Linked DNA regions of Homo sapiens: all the other regions are linked to region 3. Evidence: fine-mapped expression QTL. A gene starts in region 3. Each other region holds a variant in brackets. All regions are shown on one strand. Distances are from middle to middle.

Region 1 (5,817 bases), 38 kb before region 3:
ATGCACCTGTAATCCCAGCTACTCGGGAGGCTGAGGCAGAAGAATTGTTTGAACCCGGGAGGCACAGCTTGCAGTGAGCCAAGATCGCACCATTGCACTCCAGCCTGGGTGACAGAGCAAGACTCCGTCTCAAAACAAAACAAAACAAAAAACAAAATAATGCAACAGTCAGGAGTATCAACAGCTAGCTTTACCAGGACACTTGGGCTGTTTCAATATCTAGTTTGACATTGATTATTGGAATTATCTGCTCAGAGGCATGCCACTCCAAAGAAGTAACTGCCCTCAGTGAGACTGCATGAACAGAGGCTGGTGGCTGTTGGCCCAAGATCATAAATGGGAGCCTGCAGTGGTCAGTGGATTGTTCAGCATAGTCCCTAAAGTCCCGCCCAACTCACAACATCAATTATTTTCTTCCCTAAGCACCAGGAAATAACAAACGTTCATATCTCAAAAACGTATCTGTAAGTCAACATTTTCAGGAATCCTGCTGCAAAAAGGCAAGGGGAACAGGGGAGGGCAGGCAGCTCTTTATGTCCCCACGAGGCTCAGTGGTGGAGAGAGGACCTGGAATAGGTCGATGAATATCTTTTTTTCCCATAAGTTATTGGGGGTACAGGTGGTATTTGGTTACATGAGTAAATTCTTTAGTGGTGATTTGTGAGATCCTGGTGCACCCATCTCCTGAGTAGTATATACTATACCATATATGTTGTCTTTTATTCCTCACCCCCCCTTACCCTTCCCCCCAAGTCCCCAAAGTCCATTGTACCATTCTTATGCCTTTGTGTCCTCATAGCTTAGCTCCCACATATCAATGAGAACATAGGTTGTTTGGTTTTCCATTCCTGAGTTACTTAACTTAGAATAATAGTTTCCAACAATAAAAACAAAGATAAATAGATGGGACTTAATTAAACTAAAGAGCTTTTGCATGGTAAAAGCAACAGTCAGCAGAGTAAACAGACAACGCACAGAGTGGGAGAAAATCTTCACAATCTATACATCAGACAAAGGACTAATATCCAGAATCTACAACAAACTCAAACAAATCAGTAAGAAAAAAACAAACAATCCCATCAAAAAGTGGGTTAAGGACATGAATAGACAATTCTCAAAAGAAGATATACAAATGGCCAACAAAGTATGAAAAAATGCTCAACATCACTAATGATCAGGGAAATGCAAATAAAAACTACAGTGCGATACCCCCTTACTCCTGCAAGAACGGCCATAACCAAAAAAATCAAAAAACAGTAGATGTTGGCATGCATGCGGCAATCATGGAACACTTCCACACTGCTGGTGGGAATGTAAACTATTAGAGCCACCATGGAAAACAGTGTGGAAATTCCTTAGAACTAAAAGTAGAACTACCATTTGATCCAGCAATCCCATTACTGGGTATCTACCCAGAGGAAAAGAAGTCATTATTCAAAAAAAGATACTTGCACGCACATGTTTATAGCAGCACAATTCACAACTGCAAAATCGTGGAACCAACCCAAATGCCCATCAGTCAACAAGTGGTATATATATATATACAATGGAATACTACTCAGCCATAAAAAGGAATCAATTAGCAGTATTTGCAATGATCTGGTTGATCAATATCTTAAGAAAGGTGGTTAAGCTTTGGTTACAGCAATGGCCGATAGAGAAGATTATGGCTGTATCAGACACAAGTGAGGGTCCCTTCCCTTTTCCTTGCTTTTATTCTTGTTATTTTTTTCTACCTAACATTATTTTAGCTACTTACTTGTTTCTTACCTGTCACTCCACCTGGGCCAGGACTGTTTTTTCTACCCATCCGTCCTCAGCACCCACTGCTGTGCTTGATATACAGTAAGTGCTTGGCAAATGTTGTTGAATGCACAAATGCATGCACCGCTGGCCTTGGAGACTAAGGAGGAGATGGGTACAACTATTGTTCTCTGCCTCATTGGATTTTAGCTTTGGTCATGATAGCAGTTGGCTGTGGTCTTCCTACAGATAACAGCAGACAGGGTCTGGACGGAAGGAGAGAAATGGGCTTTTGGGTTCCAAGTTCTGTCAGTGTTGGGTGACTGAAGTCGTGCACAGAGGCCTCTCTGAGGGAGAAGCCATGGCCATGCCACCCCCTGGCTTCCCTGCAGCTTGAGGCAGGAGGTAACCAGCCATTATGGGGCAGGATCCCTATAGGCCAAAATGTGGAGACTTTATTTTTTTCCTGGGATGCCAACACCTAGTTCTCTGGTTTTCCCCACTTAGTTAATTTTTGTGTTAGGAAAGGCCACCTCCTCAGCCTACCTTCTCTTCCCCGGCAATGGGCACATGGCTCATTTCTGGGCTCTCTGTGCTCTCCCTGGAGAGTGGGGGTGCAGAGGACACTGCTTTCTGCTGCAGGCGCCATGTTTAGTTGGTCTCACTTTGAGATGCTCATTTCCCTCTGCCTTCTGTCAGCCCAGATGTGAGGACCCAGGGTCTCCGCAGGGTGTGCACTGTCATGGCCTCTCTGCTCTGCCACATCAGGCCCATCTCCACCCGTGCTGTGGTCCATCTGCAGTGGTGACTCTCTCTCACTCTCTTTATGGGGCCACTCCCCCACCTAAATTCCTTTGAGGTGATTTCAACTGGGGTCAGAATAGAGAGGGGAGAAGGAAAGGTGTATGTTCAGCTCATCAGATTTAACTGGAAGCTCTCAAGGCTACTTTAAAAATCATAAAAGCCATTCCCAATAAGCTTGTTTGTTTTAAAGGAAATCTCCTTTCCAAATCACTGTAGATAGTAAACAGAAGAAGTTGAAAAAACCAAATAAAAACAGGAAATATGATGAAAGAATGTTTCGATGTAACAATTAGTAAAAGAATTTGAGCTACCTTGTTAAATGGCAAAGTCTATTTATTATGTTGTTAAAGACAACTGAAACAAATGGCATTTAAAAACTCCAGATGAGATGATAAGGCAAAGCAATGCCAGATGAATTCATCAAGATAAAAAGCAGTATGGCAATGTTTTTATCAAAGTAGAATTCAAGTCATGAAGCATTCAACAGGAAGATTATTTTATATTGATAACAGGTACAGGCTATGAGGGGAAAGCTTTGCAAAGCAACAACAGCAAAACAGAAAGCAAAAACTATTAGAAGGAAGATTAGCTATGGAAGAAAAAGAAGGCTGTAGAGAATTTTAACAATTATTATGTTTCAATCAACAAAGAACAAACAGGATAAATCTTAAAAAGTGGTCTTGTTATTGTTACAGAAAGTGATCATTCTTTACACTACAAGGGAAAACTCAAAATCTACAAAAGAGAAATTTCACAGACAACAATCTCTACTATATCCATACGTGGGGAACAGAACAAAAAAACTAGGTCTAGACTAGAAGACAGAGAGAAACCATGTCAGACCAGAGCACATTGATGGCTCACGGTGAGTGACCCATGGCCTAAAGGTGCCTGTTTAGGGCCCAGGAGCCACTCACACAGGCAGAGCAGCTTACTCCGTATGAACCACCACCAGCACCCCTCCCTGCCCGGTGATGTCACCCGGTGGGCTGGGCTGGAACAAGTCCAGATGCCTTTGCCTCACCTTGGAAGGGCCACGAGGAGCTTCCTCCTCTATCCCCAAGTTCTCCACTTACACACAGCACCTGACACGAAGGTTGGCAAGTTTCCCCCGGGCCATGACTGCACAATGGCTACCCCCAGCCTCT[G/A]TGGCCTCCGAGAGAGGGCTCCTAGACAGATTCCAGCCCTATAGGGGGAGGGAAGCAACACTGCAGTTGACCTTGAAGAGATCACTGTAGGGGGCTATAGAAGGGATTGTGACATTTATTGTTCTGAAAATGCCATCAAAGACAGTTGTAAAGTCTAGTCTCATACACACTTGGCAAGACATAGCCAAAAGAGGTAAATTTGAAATTAGAAAAAATATCAGCAGTTATTACCCAGAGCTTGAAATTCTGACCTGTTACACAGTAGGATATTCAACCTCCATTTCAGCGTATTTAGGTACTTATTAGGTAGATTGCAAAATTACTAGAAAAAAAATTCCTAGAGGACATCTTGAAAATGATAAAGTAGCAGGAAAATTACAAAGATATAACTTATTTACAAAGTCCATAGAGAAGCGCCATTGGAAAGCTTCAAGTTGAAGATAATTTCATGAAAAACGCACTTAAAACAAAAATGGAATTATAATTTTTCTGAACTTTGGATACTCTTCAAATTTCCGGAGGTACCACCTAAGAAAAAAAAATTAAAAAAGGAAATAATTCTGTCGCTTAGACATTTAACCAATGCTAACAAAAGTGACAATATTTTTCATTACAAAAGAGTACTCAGTTTTTTAAATGTAGTAACAAAAACTTTGGCATTTCATACTTATAGTTTAATTTTGCCTATTATCATGAAGAATTAAATATATCTAATCATAAAGTGTGATTCAGAAGAAGTAGCCCATAGAATTCACCTTTCTATCTGGAAGGAAAATTACTGACATTTGATGAAAATACTGATCAGCACATTGCGGAGCTGTCTTTTCAGCCCCCGGGGAAAGCATGCAGGCTGGAGGAGGGGCAGGACCAAGTAGGTGCTTCCTGAATACCTGCTGGTGACTCCAGCAGTTTTCTCCAGCCTGCAGTTGGGAACTACTGGCCTAGCCCAGGGTGTGTAGAGTGGGCACCCAGCTGCATACCAGGAGGCTCATGAACGCTCTTAGTAAGGATTCGGTGAAATCTGGGGAAATGCAATATGGCATTGTCCACCATTCAGCCTTGTGCTCGAAACAAACATTATTTTCCGTTTTGATATAAATTGTATCAATGCAGGCGTGCTCATTTGTTTTGGGGATAATAGCCAGTTGGGAAAGGTGGCAACTAAGTGCATGGAGTAAAAATTAGAAATAATTTGACAAGATGGAGAAAGGGAGTTTCTATAAACACACACAGAAAGATTAAACAACAGACTAAAAATCATGATAGAAAGCAATTAGCTCATTGTTAATGTGGTAGAAACATATGAGGACGAGAAACTGAGAGGGAGTTGGCAAAACCCTGCTGGTCTTAGTTAAGTTTAACACCGGAATCCACAAATAGAGAATTCGAACATACTGGGCGGCCACGTTTACTTTTGTATGTTCTGTGTCCCCAAAAAGGCATGTAATAAGAACAATTCTAAGAAGTCGGTCAGGACTTCCGGATCAAGCGTCACTTCCCCTGGCATGAGGCCTCGAGACTGCAGCCTTTCCAGCTACGTGGCTCAGTGGTGGCGCATGGACCCACGAGTGCCCAACACACAACGTGGCCAAGCCTAACAGCTGGTGTCAAACCTGCGAAAGTGCATTGCAAACATGTTCGCTGGTTAGAGGCTGAAGGTGTTCACAGGCCTGCTGGGATCCAGGCCATCCAGCACTTGCAAGTGCTGAAGAGCTTCCCCATGGGCCAGCGGCACTGGCCGCCGCACAGTGACATAGCAGGTGAGCGCCTCTCTCCCAGAAACTGCCCGTGGGAAGATGGGCACCCTGGCCCGAAAAGGCAAGGGCAGAGTACATGACAGCAGGAGAGCCTGAAATGGGCAAACACGAGAGGGCAGGTGGGAGATGGGAAACACAGGACTGCCGCAGGATGCCGAGAAAACGCGCCCCCCCACCAGGCTGGGCAGCAAGGCTGGGCTCCGTGACATCAGAAAGAACATGTGTGAGGTCAGGGTGTTCTCACACAATGAAGGGATGTTGGCTGAAGAGGTTAAGTGTATTTCACAGAAACCATTATATAGAAATAAAATATTTATTTTTAAATGATTAAATTTTTCTTACTCCTTAGAATACCTTTAAATTTT
Region 2 (7,775 bases), 45 kb before region 3:
TGTAGTCTTTCCATTTCTGATGGCATGTATTCCACCTAATCTTGGCAGGCACTGGAAAATAACAGCAAAGTGGACCCATGGCCAACTGGACCCACTGTGGAGCTTAGGCAAAAACTCCATTTATCATTTAAACAACATAAGCCTTCCCTTTCACTAGTGAAGCTCACTGTTATCATTATTCCCACAAATTAGCATCAATTCAGAGCCATCATCTAGCAATTCTCCAAATTCTGAGAATTTCCTTTTCTCCACTGCACATTTGTCCTACTGAATGGACACTGGTCCTTTGGAGAGTGCTTGGAGAAAGACTGACAGAATAAATACGTGGCAGCATTGCAGGGTCTTTAGTTGTATACCTAGTAGTTCAGTAACAGTACTGTCTTCCCCCTTGGACTCCAAGATCCGTCAACACAGAGGTATGTCTGCTCAGCTCACTCTGAGATTCTCAGAACCTAGCACAGACCCAGACACAGAGGGGGCTTGTGAATAATTTCTGAATGAATGAAGCAGGGATGAGCTGAGGGAAAGAAAGCGACACGATGCTGGGCCCTATGCACACAGGTTTGGGATCAAAACTCCAGCTGCTCATAAAGTGTCCTGTACTCAAGCTTGTGCATCTGTCTCCCTCAGGCTCCCCAGCGCATGACAGCTTCATAGAACCAGGTTCCAGGTGTTCAGAATTCTGAGTGTTGACCATCTCAATCTTTTTGTGGGCAGAGACAGCCTCTTTTTTCCTACTTACCTCACTGTAAGTACTTACCTCTCCATCTCTGGATTTAGCCATGGCTCAGCTCCAAGGATGATTCTGGACTGAACACATAAAGGATGGGAGAAGCACCAGCCCAATCTCTGAGCCTGAGTGTCAAGTCACCCCTGCCACTTGCTTGAGTCTGACTCATGCCCTCTATGTGTGCGTGGACATCTGGGTGCCCTGGAGTTGGAGGCTTTGCCCTAACAACCTGTGTGGTCCCTTGATGGCTAGGATCCTCTTGGTCACCTTCATCTCCCTATTCGTCTTACCAGGTCCTTCTCCTCATCTCTTGCCGGGGGTCTTTTGGTGGAGTTCCCTGATAGCTATTTAGATTTTCAGTTGGATCCCATGCTTTGCATTTTATTTTTTTATTGTTTTATTTTTATTTTGTAATAGTTTTAGATGATCAGAGAAAAGTTTCAAAATAGTACAGAGTTCCCATAAATCCCTAGGGCAATTATCAAATCAGGAAATCGACAAGGGTACTGCCCTTTTAACTAAATTGCAGATCTTATTGAAGTTTTGACAGCTTTTCCATTAATGTCATTTTTCTACCCCAGGGTATGATACAGGATCCCACATTTTGTTTAGCTGTCTTGTCTCCCTAGTCCTCTCCAGGCTGTGATAGTTCCTCATTCTTTTCTTGTCTTTCATGACCTTGACATAGTTGAAGAACACTGGTTAGGTATTTTAGAATGCCTCTTCATTTGGGTTCTGGGAAGTATTTTTAAATACAACATTATGTCATAGTATTTCTGGCCTAACATCCATGCTTCCATATCACTTGCAGAATAACATCTTCAACTTGCCATCGGGACATAAGGACTCCTTATTATGTGGTCCTGCTGTCCTTTCCTCCTCTTTTGCACATGGCCTTTGGAATCACCAAGTCCTGCAGCCATCCAGAAACTATCCTGAACCCCCTCTAATAAATATGTTTGAGCATTGTTGTCCTTTCTTACCTGAAATACTTTTCTTCCTTCCCCCTTGTCTACTTTGTGAACTCACAATCATTATTCAATACTATGCTATTCATGCAAGTAATGTTAGAAGCTATAATAACTCCCAAGTCTCAGTGGCTATTTTAGTCAGGGTTCCCCCAGAGAGATAGAGCCAGCAGGATATATGAAAAGGGATTTTTTTTAGGGGGAACTGGCTCACATAATCACAGAGTCAAAGTCCCATGATAGTCCAACTACAAGCTGAAAAACCAGAGAAGCCAGTGGCTCAGTCCAAGTCCAAAGACTCAGAACCAGGGAGGCTGACAGTGCAGTCCCCATTGAGCCCTAAGAGCTCCCAGCAGGCTGCTGGTGCCAGGTTCAGAGTCCAAAAGCTGGAGAACCTGGAGTCTGATGTCCAAAGGCCAGAGGAGAAAAGTGTCTCTTTCCAGAAGAAAGAGAGAAAGCAAAGAGGACCAATCTTCCTGCCTGTTTGCCCTAGCAAGGCGCCAGCAGCTGTAATACCCATATGACATTGCTCAAAGTCAATCACATGGCTTCATCCATATGCAACAGGATTGGGGAATGTGGTCTTCTGGAGCCTGGGAGGAAAATGAACAGTTTAATGAAGGCAGAGTTATCCACCATTCTGGTCACCAATTGTTTTGCTTCTCTTCCCATATGATAAAACTTGCTCCCCCTCTGCCCAAGGGAGAGAGCAGAGGTGCCCACCCAGTCATGGTATGTAGTTGGAGCCCAGGATACCTGAGCCATTCAGGACTCTCCACCAGAAACTGAACTGCTCCTGCTCCTGTTGGTCTGAGCGCCTATGATCTGAGTGATGTGCTATCTGCCACCCTGCTTTCCGATAGACAGTGATGGTTCAAGAACAGAACTGTGTGTAATTCTTCCCTTTGGAATGGAAATCTCATGTCCATCTCTAGCCCACAGTTGTACTTGAGTCCTGTAGATGTTGCATGGTGATGTTTCCCTGTTCTTAATGCTGGGAAAATTCTGATTAGATCCTGTTCTTGTGTCTTCAGAATTCACCCTCTGGGGGCTCTTCTTTCCACATTATTATCCACAGTCACCTAAGAATAGATGTTGGCCAATGTGTTTGGCTTGGGGCAGTGCAGCTTTTGGAAGTCACTTTCTGTTCAGGAAAGACTGGGTACTCAAAGATTGTTTTTTAAGTCTCCAATAGTCAAAGAACTTTTTGGTCCAGGGTTATGGTATTTTTTGGCAGTGCAGTTGTCTCAAAATCTTAGTGACTTCTGATCTATTTGCTTCCAGTCAATTTCATACATCAGTAACCACATTTAAAGACCTTTCCTGGACATTGTTCTCTAATCTCCTTTGGTTCCCACCTCTTCTCCACGGTGTTCCTCCCACTCAGTGGAATGGCAGCTTCTTTCATGTCACTGGGCTTGAGTGGGAAGTCTATACCCTTACTCACATATTTGCCCTGAGTTACTTTAATTAGCTTAGAAAGTTCACTAGATCTTTGTCAGCTCAAATAATTTTTTATTTTCATGTTTCACTGTCGGGACCAAAAGCAGTTACCTCTTACAACCCTATAAGGCCCTAAATTTCTGGCCTCTTGTTACCTTTGGTTTTCTGTTTTCAAAATAGCCAATTACATCTGTGCTCATCTCTTTCTTGTATTTCTTGCCTTTCCAAAGAGAATAAATTCCAATTTGTACACATTTCTAACATTCCATTATCCAATAACTGCCATGAGCCTATAGTGATGGAGTCAGCCTTCCAAGTTTCTGCACATGACCATTTGCCAGATGTCTTGTCACTATGTAACATAGATGTCCAGTCACCCAGCATGCTGTTTCCACCCCACCTCTTGTTCAACTGCTAAGAAAATGGCCAGATATTTTTGTTACTGCAGCAACCCACTTCAGAACACCAATTTCCATAGTATTAAATAAATCATGCCAGTTGTTGCAAACGACCTCCAAATTTTAGTGACTTAACAAAAGTTTATTTCTCACCCACCTGTTGTCTAATGAGGATGTTCCAGTTGAGTCATCCTTCTCCAGGCAGTGGAGTGACTCAGAGATCCAGGCTCTTTGCATCTTGGGATACTGCAGTCCCCAACATGTAGCTTCACATTTGCCACAGGAGGAGAAAGAACTGCATGTAAGAGACATTTCATGGGATATCTTGGAAGTGTCACACATCACATTTGCCCACATATCCACCTTGGTGAGAATTAGTTTCATGGCTCTACTCGGGTATAAGGGTAAATGTGATCCTCCTGAGTGTCCAGGAAGAGAATTAAATGATCAGCAATAATTAGAGCTATTTCTGGATTATTTCTGCCATGACTGTTAACTGGTGGCAAGTCAGGATGGGCTCCCCTCGTCCTTGATCCTTGTCTTGGGAGAAAGAATTCAGCCGAGAGACAGAGGTAGATGTAAAGCAGACATGACAGTTTA[T/C]TGAAGCAAAGTGAAGTACACTTGGAAGGGACGAAGCGGACAACAAAACATTTGAATGCTTTGCCTGATTGTTGGCTCAGGGCTCTTATTTATAATTTCCCAGTTTCTCCCAATCTTCTCCCCTCATCTTTCCCTTTGGGTGGGCTGTTGGCTAATTGCCAAGTGCACAGTGACTTGCTAGTGTATGAGGGACCACGTGTGTCATTTGGTGGTTGAAGCTATGTGCATGCTGTCTTAGGACAATTTTCCCTTACTGGTCTAGCACCCCCAGAGGAAGGTCATATACGGGTCAAATGCTGCCATTTTGCCCCTTACTGTGCATGCTTAGACATGTCCCAGAGGAAGATCAAACTTCACCATTTTAAGTTTTTCTTGGGAAGTTGTTGCCCACAAGCTCAAGATGTCTCCTGTTTGTTAGGAAAATTTCCCCTCCCTATTGCCAGCTCCCTGGCTGTCAACAATCACCCAACAGTAACCTGACAGTCACCTGATGTTCTTTGGGGCCCTATGCTGCCCTGCTCATATCTGCCTAATTACCTACTCTACCATGACCATCTCAAGTGTCACCTGATTTCTTTGGAACCCCCATGTAGAATCAGACATTTCCCTCTCTGCTTACATGTGTATTGTACCTAATTTGTATCATAGCACCTACCGTGTTGTATTAAAAATTATTTTTTTGTTTATGCACTTATCAGGCCATGAGCCCCTTAAGGCTAAGATCTCTCTCGTATTCATCTTCATGGCACCAGTGCCCCAGACTCTGTGCTGAATGAGAGCTGGTGGAGCAAATGCTGAGATAGGAAGGAGGACAGGCTTAGAGTGGACCTAGAGAGTCAGTCCTCTCCAAGAGCAAGATGGGGTTTCTCTATTAGTAAGAGAAAAATTGGGGTTTTGTATATGACATATTGTCTAATAAAAATGAAAGCATCATTATTTTATTTTTCATTTAATCAAGAGGGAAGCCTGTTCCTCCTCCCTGCCCCCATACTTGCTGTTCACTAGGTAGTTTAGCATTTCCCAATGCATTATTCTCTACACAATGTAAGACCTCAGTAGAGGCCATTAATTATGTATTTTTGAATAACCTCTTGTCCTGAATGAAACTGTTACTTTTGGTAGACAAAAAGTCTCTAAAATGTGGGTACCGGAAATTCTCAGGACCCAAGCTGCTATTCAGTACTGGAATGGTGGCATGTGGGCTCTCTGTCCTCTGAAGATTTAGGATTGTGCCCCAGAGCTTCTCTATTCAAGAAGCCCAAGATAGAAAAATTTCCTATTCAGGCAGAACCATTTCCAATTAACTGATGGAAATACATGGAAATGAGGAACAACAGCACATTTGTTTGCTATTACTCTAAGGAACAAAGGGCTCGTGATGAGCCCGCACGAAGGGATTCTGTACGTCATCTGAGATGTCTCCTGGCTCCCAAGGACAGGGCCTGTGGGTGTGGAGAAGGACGCTTCCCAGCGGCCTGCCTGTCCTAGTGGATGGAGGGAACTGGCCACCACGAGGTCAGATGGGCCACCTTCCGACAATAGGTGGAGGAGGACACCATGTCTACGGGACGTCATCAGAGGTACAGACATCACAGGCTTATATTTATCTAGACAGTTTTCTAGCAGATGAAAGTGAGTTTTCTGAAACATCAGAACAGTGTGACAATTTTCTGACAGGTAGATGTGAGGCATCTGGAAGAAGAGCATCTTTTTAGGATTGTCCCCAAGGTGCCACCTGAGCTTCCTGCAGCCAAGGGGGCAAGCCCTTCCCACCAGTCCTAACTCTCCCCTCTGGCAGGGCTCAGCCTGGGGAGGAGACTACATTGTGAGGAGGAGAGGAGCATGTGGTCTGAAATCTGACTCCAGGGAAATTGGCCTCTGGTTGTGGTTGACACACCTGCCTTTGCAAAATCTGTCTAGCACAAAGGCACCAGAAGCAGCTCATGGAGTTACTGACCACCTCTCACCAGAGGCAACAGAGCATAACCCCAGGAATCAGAGCACGGGAGGATGGAAACCTCAGGGGCGAGGCTGGCAGAGCCTTCTCCCACCTTCTGCAAGTTTACGCCCAGCCAGCTGACTCCATCACATGGAGGACAAAAAGTCCATCCAATGAGCAAAACGCTCTTTTTCCACTCAGTTTTTTTTTTAATAGATTTAATTTTTTAGAGCAGCTTTATGTTTACAGAAACATTGAAAAGAAAGTACAGAGTTCTCACATATCTCTCTCTCCAACACGATTTCCCCTATTAACATCTTGCATTAGTGTTGTACACTAGTTACAGTTGATGATATTAACATAATAATAATAAAGCAAAAATTAAGTAGCATCTAAATTTAATAATTAAATAACATTTTAGATAATAATGAAAATAAGTAAAATAAATCATTTTAATTAAATAATATTATTAATAAAAATCCAGAGTTTACATTAGCATTCATTCTTCATGTTGTATATTCTATGTGTTTTGAAAAATGCATAATATTCTATATCCATAAAGTATCATAATAATAGTTTCACTGCCCTAAAATTTGTTTGTATTCTGCCTGTTCATCCCTCCCTTCATCCAAAACTCTGTTCTTTTTATTGTCTCCATAGTTGTGCCTTTTTCAGAATGTTATACAGTTGGGATCATATAGTATCTAGCCTTTGCAAACTGGCTTTTTTCACTTACCAATATGCATTAAAGTTCTTCCTTATCTTTTCATGGCTTGATAGCTCTTTGTTAAAAAAAAATCTCTGACACTAGTATTCTATTGTATGAATAGATTTTCCTCATAGAAATAGAATTGGATACAATTTCTTTATCCGCCCACCTATTGAAGGACATCTTGGTTGCTTCCAATTTTTGGCAATTTTGAGTAAAGCTGCTATAAACATTCATGTGCAGGTTTTCTGTGTGGACATGTTTTCAACTCCTTTGGGTAAACACCTAGGAGCAAATCTACTAGATTGTTTAGTAAGAGTATGTTTACCTTTTTAGGAATCTGCCAGACTGTCTTCCCAAGTGGCTCCACCACTTTGCATCCCCACCAGCCGTGAATGAGAGTTCCTGTTGCTCCACATTCTCACTAGCATTGGTGATGTCAGTCTTCTGGATTTTGGCCATTCTGATAGGTGTGTGGTGGTACTGTTGTTTCAATTTGCAATCCCCTAATGTCATATGATGCTGAGCATGTTATCATATGCTTGGCACTCAGTTTTGTTTCCCTTTCCTTCATGGGCCTGATGGAGCTATTTCTGATTCAAAGCAAAAAGAACTGGCTTATTGTTATGGGAGAAATATGTTTCTAGACTGATTGCGCCAACATTCCCTTCATATATCTTTCAAGAGTGATGGAGAATGATACTAATGCCAAGTATCATTTCCTTTTTTGGATCCTTTCAAATTAGACAGAACAATCGGTGCTAAAAACAATAGGAAATAATTGATGCCCTCCCCAGAGGATCTGAATTGGGAACGGAGTTTTCCCGGCTACGTGAAGCCTTTGAGAGCAGATTTTGCTGCTTTGCAGTGGGGGAAGCAACTAACTCAGACTGTCAATTACCTTACAAAGAGCTAGACGCTAATTAATTTGAGATATTTCTACAATCCCGCCTCCCACATGTGTATTTTAGACCAGATCAGCTAGATT
Region 3 (7,649 bases):
TCAAATTGTAGCAATGGTTGATCCCATTCCAAAAAAAAAATAAAGCAATGGTAAAGAGTTTCAGGCACACAGTACTCACTAAGCCTCTGATGAATGTTGACTTGCCCTTGTTTAAAGTGCAAGTCATCAAAGCACACTGAGGACACAGACTGCACCAGTTACAGGGTAAGGTGCTGGTTTTCAGGGAACTCAGGTACCAAAAACTGTGCTGGGTACAACACTGGTTCCAAGTAGTGGAGCTGTGTACTTTCTCTTCGCTGGAATGCATGACACCAGGAGAAAGAAGAGAGGCTTATAAACACACACTGAGTTCTTCCTGTCTCTCTGGGAAGTGAGTGTTTTAAGGTGGGACCCCAAATCAGAAAGGTTGGGTAAACTGCCCATAGTCACACAGCCAGTGAGTTCAACTTCCTTGGGTGTAGAGACATCCTTTTTAACTGTGAAGCTTTCCAGAGCCTGAATGAAAACGTTTAAAATTTAATTTTGAACTTTCGACCTGTCGTTTGCTTTGGCTGTGTAAAAGCCAAAAGATACGACCTGGAGAGAACCCCAACTTATTAGAAGGCTTGAAGATTTCAGACACAGCCAGTTTTCAAATATTCAAAAAAACAAAAACCTTGAAAGATTTAGAAGTCATCTTTAAGACTTCGTTTGTTTAAGGTTTAAGGTTGCTGGCTTTCCACCCCCACAATCCTGGGGTCCCTTGCATAAGGTGGACATGAAAGTCTCTGAAAGTGATCAAGCCTATAAGGAGAAACTGCTAGGCAGTTTTAGGACAGCAGGTTTCCAGTTGCAGCTGATCACTTGGCTGGGAGAAAACAGCTCCACCATCACCAAAGATACCAAAAGGGGAACCGGCAGAAAGGAGTAGAAACCAGTGGCCCTCAAGACCGACCATCAGCATTAGACTCTAGGCCAACCCCCTCCCCCCCGCCCCCACAGTCGTGATCTAAGGGAACAAAATCTAGTCTTCATTTTTATTTTACATTTTTACTTTTTAACTCTTTATTTTTATATATTTAATTTTGAGACAGAGTCTCGCTCTGTCACCCAGGCTGGAGGGCAGTGGCGAGATCTCGGCTCACTGTAACCTCCGCCTCTCGGGTTCAAGCGATTCTTCCATCTCAGACTCCCGAGTAACTGGGATCACAGACAGGCGCCACCGCGCCCGGCTAAGGAAACCAAACCTAGGACCACTGAGTGGCTCTTTCCAGATCAGTTTCATCATGTTTTTTTCCATCACTCCCTTCCAGTCCTTTGTTTCCCGCCCTTTCCAGACGAATCCCTTCTGGTTTCCAAACTCCCGGGGCCGGGGGACTCGGGGAAGGGCACCCGTGCAGATGGGGGACGCCCCGGGGGATCTGGCAGGGAGAGGGCATCTGGGTGGGGGAGGCTTCGGGGAGAGGGCACCGGGCAGTGAGGGGAGGGTCGGAGAGGACGCCGGGCCGGGAGTAGGGTAGGGGGCCGGGGGCCGGGGACGTTACCGATGCCCGTAGTGGACGAGGAACATGGCCAGGAGGATGCAGTTGGGCGCGCTGCGGAGACGCGGGGCGGACTCGCTGGCGTACTGGTAGAGCGGCAGGGCCAGCGAGGGCAGCTCCTGCACCACCCAGGCGGCCCGCGCCGGCACTCGGAGCCTGTGGCTGGGCAGCGCGTGGCGGCCGTACACTGAGTTCGTCTGACGATTGCGCGCGAAGACCGCGCAGCCCACGGCGCACTGCAGGTAGGCGAGCGCGGCCAGCAGGCGCTCCTCCGCCACCCCCGTCGCCGTTGCCATCGCCAGGGCTGGGCAGCGTGCTCCATGCCCCAGAGGCCGCGGCGGGCAACATATAGGGCGGCGGCGCGGGGGCAGGAGGGGCGGCTACCGGAGGGGCGGCTACCGGAGTCCCGCACTGCCGGGACTCTGCAGAAAGGGTTCTCAAGTCAGGCTTCTCCGGGGTAGCCGGGGCTGTGGGTGCGGCCCCGGGGGCGGGGCGAGCACTTGCGCGGGGAGGGACCTGCAAGCGCCCCACCCACGCCGGGGCCGCAGTAACCCCGCGCCGCTCTGCGCACGCGCGGCTTCAGGCTGTCCGCGGAGCTCCTTGAGCCCGCGTGGGAAACCTGGGCGCTTCGCGCGGAGACGCCTTTGTGGCTGCTTCCTGGAGCATTTTTTTCCCCTTAGAGCTGTTCGCTGTTTTCCCTGTCACGCCGCTTTTCTGAAAGACGGGTTGTGCGCTTTGGGCTTATTCCTGGACGGTCCCCAAAGGTCCCCGAAAGGACCAGGCCCGGACACGTGGGGCCTTGGTTTCCGGCCGGAAGTCCCGGGAGGTGTAGGGCTAGAGTTCTGGCCGTGGCGGGCCGGTTTCTGCGTGCTGCGTGCGCGGCCGCGTGGGCTATGGGGCGGCGGTCGCGGGGTCGGCGGCTCCAGCAACAGCAGCGGCCGGAGGACGCGGAGGATGGCGCCGAGGGTGGTGGAAAGCGCGGCGAGGCGGTAGGAGCCGGGACCCGGCGGGCGGGCCAGGGGCTCCTCCTGGGCTTCCCGGACCCCGAGGCCTGCGAGGCGGCGGCGAGGGGGCGGCTCCTTGGGCCTCGGGGTAGACGTCTCTTTCCTTCCTCAGGGCTGGGAAGGAGGCTACCCCGAGATCGTCAAGGAGAACAAGCTGTTCGAGCACTACTACCAGGAGCTCAAGATCGTGCCCGAGGGCGAGTGGGGCCAGTTCATGGACGCTCTCAGGGAGCCGCTCCCGGCCACTTTAAGAATTACTGGTTACAAAAGGTAGGGAGGCAGTGCCTGATTTTTTGGGAGTTGGGGCCAGGATGCTGGAGGTTAAAGGCGACGGTGTTTTCTTCGACAAGTGTTACAGTGCCAGAGAACCGTGGCGTTTCAGCGGTTTGGATTCAGGAAGCATTGAGGTGGGGAGCACAGGGTCCAATGAAATGGTCACGGAGGTATTGCAGGCGCAAGGTTAGAAGACGAAATGAAAATGAGATCTGAGGAAGATTCGGCTCCTGGGGAATCTTCCAGGAGGGAAGCTGAGGGTCTTACCTTTTGGAACGTAAGAGAATTTATAGAGAATGCATAAAACCCCTTGGTTCTCCCCTCCTCCGCGCCCCCCCTCCATCTTTGTAGTTACATCTTTCTAAATGAGTCGCAAGTAAAACTTAACGGTAGGATATGCTTAGGAGAGAAGGAATGCAGTGTTGCTCTTAGGGCTCAAACAGTGTGGATTGCTTAAATTTTGAAGGCATACAGTGTAAAAGTAGTGACTAAAGAATGTTTACTCTCCATGCAAAAGTTGGTTTTAGTTTTAAAACACTTGCAGTCTTAAATTTAAGAAGATACAATGTATTAACTTAGTTTTTTAGATCAGTTTGAAACTTCCTTATTTTTCAATAGCCACGCAAAAGAGATTCTCCATTGCTTAAAGAACAAATATTTTAAGGAATTGGAGGACCTGGAGGTGGACGGTCAGAAAGTTGAAGTTCCACAGCCACTGAGTTGGTAGGTACCACAGTGCTTCATGCCGAATATTTATTTGGGATATTAATCTCTATCACTTGAATTATATTTCTTGGTACTGCATTTGCTGTTAAAGAGCTTGGGTATACTTTGCAAACATCCTAATGTTCTAGTACCTGGTGCTTTTATCAACATTATATTGCTACGCAAGTTTTCATGCGATTTGCGATTTGCAGCTTTATGAGTCACTGATTTCAGCCAGCTCTTCCTAGTACATCCAGCCTCTTCCTTTATGTCACCACTTCCGCCAGCTCCCTTTTACAGCCCTTGTTTTCTCACATCAAAACTGTTGCAGAGTGGCTGCTTTGCCTTCAGAAAAAGGACAGACTTAGCTTGACAACAGTCTCCTGGTAGGTAGTCTCTTAGTGTTTTCCATTACAGACAGGTTACCACTGTCTGCTGTCAGGTTGTCTCCTGGTACTTCGCAGTACAGACTGCACCAGCCAATGTAGCATTTCCGAGTCTCAGCACCCAAGCGTGCTACTACTCTGGGAGCTACCTCTTTCTTGACCTGTCCTGGAGGTGCCTTCTGGGTTACCTATTCCTCATGGCTCGGTTCTAGTCTCAGTTGTATGAAGGTGATCCCTTGTGCTGATAGCATCTTGTAAAGATGCTTGGAGAACTCCGGAGGCGCCAGTCCTTCAGTTAACTTACATAAGTGGGAAAGTCGTTATTATTAACTTTGAGGTATTGAGTTCTCAGAAAAGTAATGCACGAAAAGGTGAATTAAGCCGTTTTTTGTTTGTCTGTTTGTTTGTTTGGAGACGGAGTCTCACTCTGTCGCCCAGGCTGGAGAGCAGTGGCACCATCTTGGCTCACTGCAAGCTCCACCTCCCTGGTTCACGCCATTCTCTTGTCTCAGCCTCCCGAGTAGCTGGGACTACAGGTGCCCGCCACCACGCCCGGCCAATTTTTTTGTATTTTTAGTGGAGACGGGTTTTTACCTTGCTAGCCAGGATGGTCTCATCTCCTGACCTCATGATCCGCCCACCTCGGCCTCCCAAAGTGCTGGGATTACAGGCGTGAGCCACTGCGCCCTGCCAAATTAAGCGTTTTGCATCAACTTTTGAGGTTTTGACTATTCCAGTACGTAGTGTTATCTTTCCTTTTTGGATAACCTTTAGTGTTCGCAAATCAAGGTCAGATTTTCATTAATCATGGGGTACAGATTTGCTTGTTTTTCTTTCATTGGCTATTTGGATTTTCATTGTCCCTATCACAGATAAGCATATACATTCACAATGAATGCTGACTGGCCAAACATTAAGTCAGTATTCAACCAGTATCAAGACCGAATATCACCATCATGGAATGTGTTGCTGGGATATAGGAATAAATATGACCAACATCGTGAAACCCTATCTCTACTAAAAATACAAAAATTAGACAGGCATGGTGGCACACGCCTGTAATCCCAGACACTAGGGAGGCTGAGGCATGAGAATCGCTTGAACCCAGGAGGTGGAGGTTGCAGTAAGCCAAGATCATGCCACTGCACTCCAGCCTGGGCCACAGAGCGAGACCATGTCTCAAAAAGGGAAAAAAGAATAGATATGCCACATCTTAGATTTTTAAAAGCTTGAAGGGTACAGTATAGGAAAATGATACGGGTGCTACGTTGCTGTTAGTGGTCACTAATTGTCCACTGTAGTGAGATCAGTGGAAAAGGTAGATGTTTTTCAGCCTCTAGTTATGGCATTGCTGAGATGAGGTAACCTTCACGAGATCAAGCTTTTCTTCCTCCTGGTAACTAGGTTGTAGACTTTGCTCAAGTCGTTTGGTTTGAAGATTTGATTGACGACACTGATTGTGTTGTACTTGAAGTAGAGGTCTGATACTGTAGTAGTCCATTTTCACACTGTTATAAGGACATACCTGAGTAATGTATAGATAAAGGAAATAGGCTTAATTGACTCACATTTCCACATCGCCGGGGAGGCCTCAGGAAGCTTAAAATCATGGCGGAAGATCTCTCTGCACAGGGTGGCAGGAGAGAGAATGAGTGCTGAGCAAAGGAAGAAGCCCCTAATAAACCATCAGATCTCCCCCTGAGAACGAACTCACTGTTGTGAGAACAACATGAGGGAAACGGCCCGGGGATTTAATTATCTCCACCTCGTCCTGCCCTTGACACGTGGGGAATATTACAATTCAAGGTGAAATTGGGGTGGGAACACAGAGCCAAACCATCTAAAATATTTTAAGAAGACAGGATTACGATTCTCCTCGGGCATGTTTGTATTTTTAGCAGTGATGCATGTATGTGCTGCTTCACACAATCACCTGGAAACATTTGTTTCTAAAACCTTGTGTTTAGAAGCGCAGAGACGGGATAAGAAATGCTTTTAAGATGAAGAAGTTCCTGTCCAGGAGGAACGTTTCAGCATGTGTCTATAGGGAAGAGGTGTGCTCTTAAGGCACCTCCATGTGGGCATTTTCTTCTGCAGGCTCCAACAAACTAGGAGAAACCATACGATGTCAATAAGGCTTGCTAGTTTTTTATTATTCTCTGCAAACTACAGTTACACTTGGATTTGATCAGCCCTTTTAACATTTCATAGCTGCTTTTCCACCTTGTTTAACAATGTGTCTGGGTATATGACAAGGTAATTACCAAACTCTTAGAATCTGCAGGTTGTCTGTAGTTGAAGAATGAAGGTGAATTGCTCTCTGCCAACAGCCAGCTATGTTTTTGTTTGCTTTAATTTTCTGAACACACAGCTGAAGGGTATGAACAAAACATTGTAGATCTGGGTTTCTAATATTTGGCTTTTTCCATTATCAATGATGGTTTCTCTATATTTTATTTTGAGACAGGGTCTCACTCTGTCACCCAGGCTGGAGTGCAGTGATGTCATGACGGTTCACTGCAGCCTTGACCTCCTAGGCTCAAGTGATCCTCCCACCTCAGCCTCCTGAGTAGCTCGGACTACAGGTGCATGCCACCACGCCTGGCTAATTTTTTTTATTTTTTTGTAGAGATGGAGTTTCACCTTGTTGCCCAGGCTGGTCTTGCATTCCAGGGCTCAAGCAATCTTCCTGCCTTGGTTTCCCAAAGTGCTGGGATTACAGACATGAGCCACCATTCCTGGCCAATGCCAGTTTCTTGGCAGCTGTATTCTCTAAACATTTATTTATTCAAATTCATCTGTCAGTTTTAGGGTACTAAATCTCTCAGCAAGCAAGTAAAGCAGAAGCTTTCCAGGACTTCTGGTAATTTTCTGTATTGCTCAAGATGCAGGAATAGATCATGTAATATTCTTCCCAATCCTCTGGTACATAGTGAAATATAATTTAGGAAAACGTTTTTTGAAATTACATTTTCTAGAAGGAAAGTTATGTATAGGACCATAGCTTGGGCCAGTTTCATTTTTTTCTTACTTTCCATAGACTCAGAACAATGAGAAATTATCCTAAAGCATTCTTATAGAAGCATTGTTTTGACAACCAATTGTTCAGAGTGCACCTTATTATCATTCTATTTATGTGCTGTTTACTTATATTTTTTTTTGAGACAAGGTCTCTGTTGCCCAGGTTGGAGTGCAGTGGCATGATCTCAGCTCACTGCAACCTCCACCTCCTGGGCTCAGGTGATCCTCCCACCTCAGCGTCCCAGGTAGCTGGGATTACATGCCCCCATCACCATACCCAGCTATTTTTTCTATTTTTTGTACAGTTGGGGTTTTGCCATGTTGGACAGGCTAGTCTTGAACTCCTGACCTCAAGTGATCCGCCCACCTTGGTCTCCCAAAGTGCTGGTGTTACAGGCATGAGCCACTGCACCTCGCCTGTTACGTGCTTTTTAATGTCTAGATTGAGGATGGTTTGTCATAGATGTTGTATATATTTACAGAGTCCTTACCACTTGAGAATTTTTAATATGCAAAGATGACAGTGGTCCTTTTAACTTATCCTCTAAAAAGCCCAAATAGGATTTTTTCTTAAAAGACACAAGCTAAATTTGAAGTAAGTAACTAAAAATTAAATATACCTCTCATTTTGTTTGATGTTAAAATCTACAAAGATTTAATAAACATTTTTTGGTTCATAAAAAGATGATGCTGTTCCTAAAGCTGTATAAGAAACATAATTTAAAAACATTTCTTGTAGAAACAGGGCCTCGCTTTGTTGCCCAGGCTGTTCTCTGTAC
Region 4 (7,775 bases), 40 kb after region 3:
AATCCAGCCAACAACCCCATACATGAGCTTGGAAACAGATCCTGCCCTAGTTGAGGCTTGAGTCAACCCACTTCTTGAGAGATGTTAACTTTAAAAATACAAAAGCACTGTATTAGTCTGTTCTCATGCTGCTAATACAGACATACCTGAGACTGGCTAATTTATAAAGGAAAGAGGTTTAATTGACCCACAGTTCCACATGACTGGAGAGGCCTCACAATCATGACGGAAGGTGAATGGGGAGCAAAGTCACGTCTTACATGGTGGCAGGCAAGACAGCTTGTTCAGGGGAACTCCGACTTATAAAACCATCAGATCTTGTAAGACTTATTCACTACCATGAGACCAGTGTGAGAAATCACCACCCCCATGATTCAATTACCTCCCACAAAGTCCCGCCCACAATACATGGGAATGATGGGAGCTACAATTCAAGATCAGGTATCATATCAACCACAATTAATACATTTAGAAAACAGAGGAGACTTTATTTCTTGTAAAGGTTTCAGCCTGCAAGGTGGCCATCCTGCAGCCTGGGAAGCACAGCCTCCAGCCAAGACCAGAGAGAAACACCATGGAGGAAGAGAAGCTGGGACAGGAGCTTTATGCCGAACTGGTTGGCTAAACATGCATATTCAACAGGTGACAGGAGGAGCTATGAATATTCAGGATGGTCCTGGCACATGTGTATGGGACAAATGTTCGTGTAACATACCACCCATGTTCACTTTGGGATGGAGACTTAACATTTAAATGTACTACAGTTAGACCCTATATGTCAAAAGGTCTTTTCAGGACATGAAGGTGTCCAAGTGTACAGCCAGCCAGGACCAGTTCATGGTCAGGAGAAAGTTACTGGAATCAATCGCTTTGTACTACAGGCTCTTTGTAGTATACAAAGAGATTTCAGTAAGTTCAAGTCAAAGCTGCAGTTATGGCTGGTGGAATGGGGTCGGTTGGTTAACGTCTCTGAGCTGGATGAGCTGGAATTGTTTAACGTATCTCGAGGCCAGTGCTTGTTTAGTTGCTAGAGAAAAATACCCTTGGCCGTTAGAAGAAAGGTTAGGGATGTGTGATGTAACCCTTGCCTGGCATGGCCTTGGGTCCTGTTTACAATCTGGTATCTTACTGCTACAGAGAGTCTATTTGCCAGTCTTAAGATCTCTGTGTTAACATTAATGTCGGTCAGTTGTGTCTAAACCACAAAAGGGAGGGGGTAGAATGAGGTGTGTCTGACCTCACATCCCACTATGGCTGGGAGTTTAGTTTTAAGGTTTTTCTGGGGTCCTCTTGATCACAAGGAGTCCATTCAGTCAGCAGGGGGCTTAGAAGTTTATCTGAGTTTACAGAGACTTGGAAGCAGAAGACCCAGTTAAGCCCTGCCAGCATTTGTGACCTACAGAAGTTGTGAGATATTAAATATTGTTTCAAGCCACTACATCCTGGGGTAATTTGTTACAAACCCATAGATGACTGATACAGTCACTTACTTCTTGACTATGTGACCCTGGGCAAGTTTCTTATCATCTCTGGGCCTTTATTTCCTCATCTATAAAATGGGCAGATGGTAGCACCTACCCAGTAAGGTGTGCTGAGGCCTGAGTTAGTGAATACGTGTGTTGGGAAAAAGCTGAGTGTTGGGAAGAAGCCGAGGCAGGGCTTGCATGTCTGACATAAAGTAAAAGAGTCTTGGAACATGTCCGGGGTCCAGGGTCTAAAACCCCTTGTGCCCTTTGGCACACCAAGCTCTGTGCTAAAGAGTGGAAGGCTACCCTGACGTACCTAATCTAAGCCCAGGGCATAAAATCCCTCGTGGCTTGGATAGAATCCAGGGCTTGTGGCTCCGGAATGTGTCTAGGCTTGCTGGCTCCTTGCTCCTTGCTCTCCCAGGATCGATTGTATCTTGAGTTAAAAGAACCTGCTCTCCATTATCTCAAGTAGAGCAAATGCTAAACCATCACAGCTATAAATCATGTGCTTGATGCAACACGCCCTTTTGACCCCCACATTCTGGCCACCTCCTTCTCTGTTGGATTACCAATAAATAGCGTGGGCTCCCAGAGCTCGGGGCCTTTGCAGCCTCCATGATCGCGATGGTCCCCTGGCCCCACTTTACTTCTCAAACTTTTTCTCAATCCTTTGACTCTGCCAGACTTCGTCACCCCCACGACCTGGTGTTGGGTCTGATCACCCCAACATATGTGCAGTGCACTGAGAACGGCACCTGACAGCTAGTGTTTCAAGGTGGGGGCTGGTTGGGGTGCGAGGTGCTAAGACAGCACATTTACTGATAATCATTTATTTATCTATTTGCTAGTGAATAAAACTTTTTGACTGGGGGATCCAAAGATAAGGTGGGTGAAGCATATAGAACTTAAATGTCATCTTTGCTCACATATTTGCCTGCTGCAAAATCTTCAATACTAGCAGAAACTAACATAGTCACTGAATCACAGCCCTGAGAACCAAGGAGCATCACATAGTTCATGTGTTCTTGTTCTAATTTCCTTTTATTGGTCTGGGGAGGAGGTACCTCGTGCCCTTCTGCTGAGCTGTCAGTGTCAGGGCACCCTGGAGCTGGTTGCAGCGGGAAACACAGAATTGCATAACTGACTGCTTTTTAATGTCAAACACGAATTTCTACTACCTACCTCTCACATCCTCAATGCCAAACTTCAGCATCAAAGATTATTTTAAACTACCTTATGAAAAACTAATAAAAACTAGAAAACATTGGCCCTGCACTCCAAGTATCCAAGCACCCGGCAATTGATGCAAATTTGTGTTCTGATTAGGTCATTAGGTTATTTATAAGATAATTGTTGGTGTCAAGAGAACAACTTCACTTTACAATTAAAATTGAAATATCTGTGGTATGCTTTTCCAGGTGGATTTTGGTTACAACAAATGACATTTTCCAGTATCAAGATCTCTGAAATTTCAACCCATTTTAAACAACTACAATATAAAGGGTCCAGAGAATGTACTAATGGGATATTACCAGAACCAGCACACAGATAAGCCTCTTCATAAAACTGATCACCTTTCACGATCGGCCCTGCCCATTTGTATATTATGGTGTGTGTTAGAACTTGTTAGACAAATCAATCTTTGGAAGCCAGTTTCCCTGGGAAACACTCTGCGCTAGAGATTTGCGTGCAGGAAGTTTGGATCATTCCCTGCAGCTGAGTGAAAGAAGCAGGGTTGGGTGGATGGGGCTGAAGGAGACATGGGGCTGTGTCGCAGGCATGACAGGCCCCAGCGGGTCCCACGGGGTGCTCTGGAGCTGCATGACGTGGCAGAGTTGGGGTGAGAGTTGACACCGCACCTCCAACATCAACCAGCCGTTAGATGTGGGGTGTGGGCTGCCCTGGGAAAGATCATGACTTCGGCAGGGAGACTTTCTTCAGCTGGGGGAACTCCCCAAGAGTGTCCCAGCTACCAGCTGAGACTGTCTCAGCTCCTGGACAGCTCCAGACCTGAAGACCTCCTTATCTGCTCCACCACTTCAATACGTCTGTTCACATGGTTGAGTAATGATTAGAAAGACAGCAATAGGAAGTATAACCTCCAAATCACTAGAAAAGAAAAGTCACAAAATTGCATCAGTCTAAGGAAAGAGAAGAAAGGAAGAAAAAAGGATAGAAGGCTGGGTGCGGTGGCTAACGCCTGTAATCCCAGCACTTTGGGAGGCCAAGGCAGGCGGATCACGAGGTCAGGAGATCGAGATGAGACCATCCTGGCTAACACAGTGAAACCCCGTCTCTACTAAAAATACAAAAAACATTAGCTGGGCGTGGTGGCGGGTGCCTGTAGTCCCAGCTACTCGGGAGGCTGAGGCAGGAGAATGGCGTGAACCCAGGAGGCGGAGCTTGCAGTGAGCCAAGATCGCACCACTACACTCCAGCCTGGGCGACAGACCGAGACTCCGTTTCAAAAAAAAAAAAAAGATAGAAATAGCAAGAAAACATACTAACCAGAAAATGCAAAACAGCTCACAAAATGGAAATAAGACTGACATACGTAGGCAAA[T/G]GCTAATGCAAGATGCAGGTGTGGATACTTAATTTTAATTATGTTTTGAATAGTTAAACACTGAGTTCAATATTTGAGAGATTCAGCTCTGTGAAATGCTCCCTCCCACCCCCTTGCCCAGCCCCATCCTCTGTGGGCAGCCAGCAGTAACAGTTTCCTGTCCATCCCTCGAGATATTCTGTGCAGATAGGTAGATATGATTTTCCCCTGTTAAACATTTTTTTTTTTTGAGACAGGTTGTCACTCTGTCACCCAGGCTGGAGTGCAGTGGCATGATCTTGGCTCACTGCAACCTCCACCTCCCAAGTTCAAGTGATTATCCTGCCTCAGCCTCCCCAGTAACTGGGATTACAGGTATGCACCACCACACCCAGCTAATTTTTGTATTTTTCATAGACATGGGGTTTCACCATGTTGGCCAGTCTGCTCTCAAACTCCTGACCTCAAATGATCTGCCTGCATTGGCCTCCCAAAGTGCTGATATAGGCATGAGCCACCTTGCCCAGCCGTGTTACACAAATATTGACATCTATTCAGAATGTTTTGTTCCTAGGATTTGTTTTTGTTTAATCACAGGTCTGACAGATCATTTCCTATCAGTACATAAGGAGGTCATTCTTTCCAGAGTGGCAGAGGGTCCCTTGTTTATCCAGACCCCTGTGAATACATATGTGGATTACTTCCAATCCTTTGTTATTACCTACAAAGCCTGCAATGATAACGCTGTACCTTTCATTTCAAATATTGCACACGTGTGTGCGTTAGAATAAATTCCTAGGAGTCGTATTTATTGGTCAAGGAGTATGTGTGTTTTAAATTATGATAGGTATTAGGTATGTCAATATATCAAAAAAACACAGTTCATGGCAAGACACAGAAAATAGGGGAACAGGGAAACTTTCTACATTTGATATTTATAAAAGGAATAACCTGTCAAGAACACATGACAGCACTTAATCTTAAAGCACCTTACAACAATCACCACAAACACAAAATAATTCAAAAAGAACTTAAGCACCTTACAACCACCACCACAAATACAAAATAATTCAGAAAGAACTTAAACAAGCACCATACAACAATCACCACAAACACAAAATAATTCAAAAAGAAATAAGCACCTTGCAACAATCACCACAAACACAAAATAATTCAAAAAGAACTTAAATAAGCACCTTGTGACAATCACCACAAACACAAAATAATTCAAAAAGAACTTAAGCACCTTCCAACAATCACCACAAACAGCAAATAATTCAAAAAGAACTTAAACAAGCACCATACAACAATCACCACAAACACAAAATAATTCAAAAAGAACTTAAGCACCTTACAACAATCACCACAAATACAAAATAATTCAAAAAGAACTTAAACAAGCACCTTACAAGAACCACCACAGATACAAAATAATTCAAAAAGAACTTAAACAAGCACCTTACAAGAACCACCACAAATACCAAATAATTCAAAAAGAACTTAAACAAGCACCTTACAACAATCACCACAGATACAAAATAATTCAAAAAGGACATATAAAAGCACCTTACAACAATAACCAAAAAATACAAAATAATTCAAAAAGAACTTAAAAAAGCACCTTACAACAATCACCACAAATACAAAATAATTCAAAAAGGACATATAAAAGCACCTTACAACAATAACCAAAAAATACAAAATAATTCAAAAAGAACTTAAAAAAGCACCTTACAGAAATAATCAAAAATAAAAAATAATTCAAGAAGAATTTAAGCACCTTATAACAATCACCACAAATACAAAATAATTCAAAAAGAACTTAAACAAGCACCTTACAACAATAACCAAAATGCAAAATAATTCAAAAAGAACTTAAACAAGCACCTTACAACAATCACCACAAATACAAAATAATTCAAAAAGAGCTTAAACAAGCACCTTACAACAATAACCAAAAAATACTAAATAATTCAAAAAGAACTTAAAAAAGCACCTTACAACAATAAACAAAAAATACTAAATAATTCAAAAAGAACTTAAAAAAGCACATTAGAACAAAATATTGGGTAAAGCAAAAACTGTTACCAATATAATAAGAAATAGACAAATCTACGGTTATATAAAAAATTTTTAATACTAGCATCTAACAGAAATTGACAAAATACAGGGATTTGAATATCAATTAACGAGCTTGAGTAAACACAGAATAGTGTGATAGAACACATGGTACAGGTGATCAATAACTCAAAAGCATATTCTTTTGAGAAGACCAATAAAATAAGACAAATATATGTTAATTGCTCAAGGAAAACAGAAAGAGAGAAGGTCATTACACTAATGGAGACTCTTACGCTTGCAAGAACATACTAAGTCCACTTGCACACCAATGGATTTGAAAATATACATGAAGTAGAAATAGCCAAGTAGGCACAAGTTAGCAGCATTGTTCCAAGAAGAGAAAAGCCTGAGTAGGAATAATATTCATAGAAAAATGGAAAAGGCATTTGGAGATCTACCCATTTTCATACCCTTTAGCCCCAAGAAAAGAGGCACTAGGCCAGGGAGGTTTCCAGGTAAGTGTTACCACATTTTCAAGAAAGATCTATTTTCTGTGTTAAACTCATTCTATAGAAAAAGCTGGAAATTTCCGCCTGCCATTCTGTGATGCTAGCATATCCAGGAGACTCACGGTAGATGAAGGTACCCACAGAGGAAACACTAACACTCTTACCATCGCCGACATAAATAGGCCTCATAAAACATCAGTGGCACAAATCGAGCAGTGATTAAAAAAATGAGCCTGTCACGATGCATTCATGAAACATAAGGAAGTATACTCTCATATAATGACATGCTTATACATTTATTAATCATTTGTATGATAAAATATATATGAATTTACATCTTTAATATGACATAAGGAATTATAAGGAATATTATGAAGTTAAAGAATAAAATATAATTATTGATACACTAAAATCCAAGATTCATTCCTTATTTTAAAAAATAACAATAAACAAGAGTAAAAGGAAACTTATTTAATTTGATAAGGCGTATGTACCAGAAATCCTGTATCAAGCATCATACTAACGGTAAAATATTTTGTTTTAATTGTTAACATTTTAAATGTATTTAAAAATAGAGAGGGTTTCTCCATGTTGGCCAGGCTGGTCTTGAACTCCTGGCTTCAAGTGATCTGCCCACCTCGGCCTCCCAAAGTGCTGGAATTACAGGCATGAACCATTATGCCTGGCCTTAACGCTAAAATCCTAAAAACAGAAACAAGGTAACAGATGTTGCTGTCAACATTCCACATCTGAGGTGCAGCCTTGGGAAGATGAGACTAACACTGCCCCTATTTGCACTTCATATAATTATCTATGTAAGAAAATAAACTGAAAAGGCATAAAAGCTCACAATAGCTTAATAATTTTTTAAAGATGAAAGACATTATAAGAATTTTTTTAAAAAGTGACACACTGGGACAAAGTATTTGCTGTGTATGTTAGACACCCCACATCCATAATATGTAAATAGCTTCTGCAAATCAATAAGAAAAAGATGAGTCATTTGAGAGAAAATTTGGCAAAGGAGTAATTTGCAAAAAAAAGAAAAGGACATACAAATGGCCGATAAACAGCTCCACTTATACTAAAAACTAAAAAATGATAATATGAATGAATTTAAATTTTTACTCTTCAAAGTGGTACAAGTTTAAGGAGTAGAGACATTCAGCTAAGAGGATGCTACAGGGATATGGG

Direction of the effects. Positions count from the first base shown, and alleles are read on the strand shown. Sizes are in standard deviations (SD) of each study's normalised expression. Not every link is listed here.
In carriers of allele G in region 1, the expression in tibial nerve of the gene that starts at base 1,914 in region 3 tends to be lower than with A alone (small effect, 0.13 SD a copy in GTEx).

What was found. PIP is the estimated chance that this variant, and not a neighbour inherited with it, causes the effect.
Region 1: its variant is fine-mapped to the expression of SRD5A1 in tibial nerve (GTEx, PIP 0.90).
Region 2: its variant is fine-mapped to the expression of SRD5A1 in whole blood (TOPMed, PIP 0.96).
Region 4: its variant is fine-mapped to the expression of SRD5A1 in whole blood (TOPMed, PIP above 0.99).

The regions. Positions count from the first base shown.
Region 1 is chr5:6,666,608-6,672,424 of GRCh38, reverse strand. SRD5A1 (steroid 5 alpha-reductase 1) reads right to left here. Exons shown (of 5, transcript NM_001047.4): 5 at 1-4,223. The coding sequence ends at 4,157. Among named protein-coding and RNA genes, the nearest start is that of SRD5A1, 36 kb to the right of the region's middle. The variant G/A (reference allele first, on the strand shown) is at 3,696.
Region 2 is chr5:6,672,878-6,680,652 of GRCh38, reverse strand. It overlaps SRD5A1 (steroid 5 alpha-reductase 1), which reads right to left. Exons shown (of 5, transcript NM_001047.4): 5 at 6,267-7,775. Among named protein-coding and RNA genes, the nearest start is that of LINC02102, 31 kb to the left of the region's middle. The variant T/C (reference allele first, on the strand shown) is at 4,140.
Region 3 is chr5:6,627,705-6,635,353 of GRCh38, reverse strand. It overlaps SRD5A1 (steroid 5 alpha-reductase 1), which reads right to left and starts at 1,914. Exons shown (of 5, transcript NM_001047.4): 1 at 1,485-1,914. The coding sequence starts at 1,777. NSUN2 (NOP2/Sun RNA methyltransferase 2) reads left to right here and starts at 2,310. Exons shown (of 19, transcript NM_017755.6): 1 at 2,310-2,470; 2 at 2,598-2,755; 3 at 3,377-3,481. The coding sequence starts at 2,375. RefSeq lists enhancers at 1,191-1,702, 1,703-2,214 and a silencer at 1,678-2,067.
Region 4 is chr5:6,587,584-6,595,358 of GRCh38, reverse strand. It overlaps LINC01018 (long intergenic non-protein coding RNA 1018), which reads right to left. Exons shown (of 5, transcript NR_024423.2): 5 at 6,859-7,775. Among named protein-coding and RNA genes, the nearest start is that of LINC01018, 9.3 kb to the right of the region's middle. The variant T/G (reference allele first, on the strand shown) is at 4,033.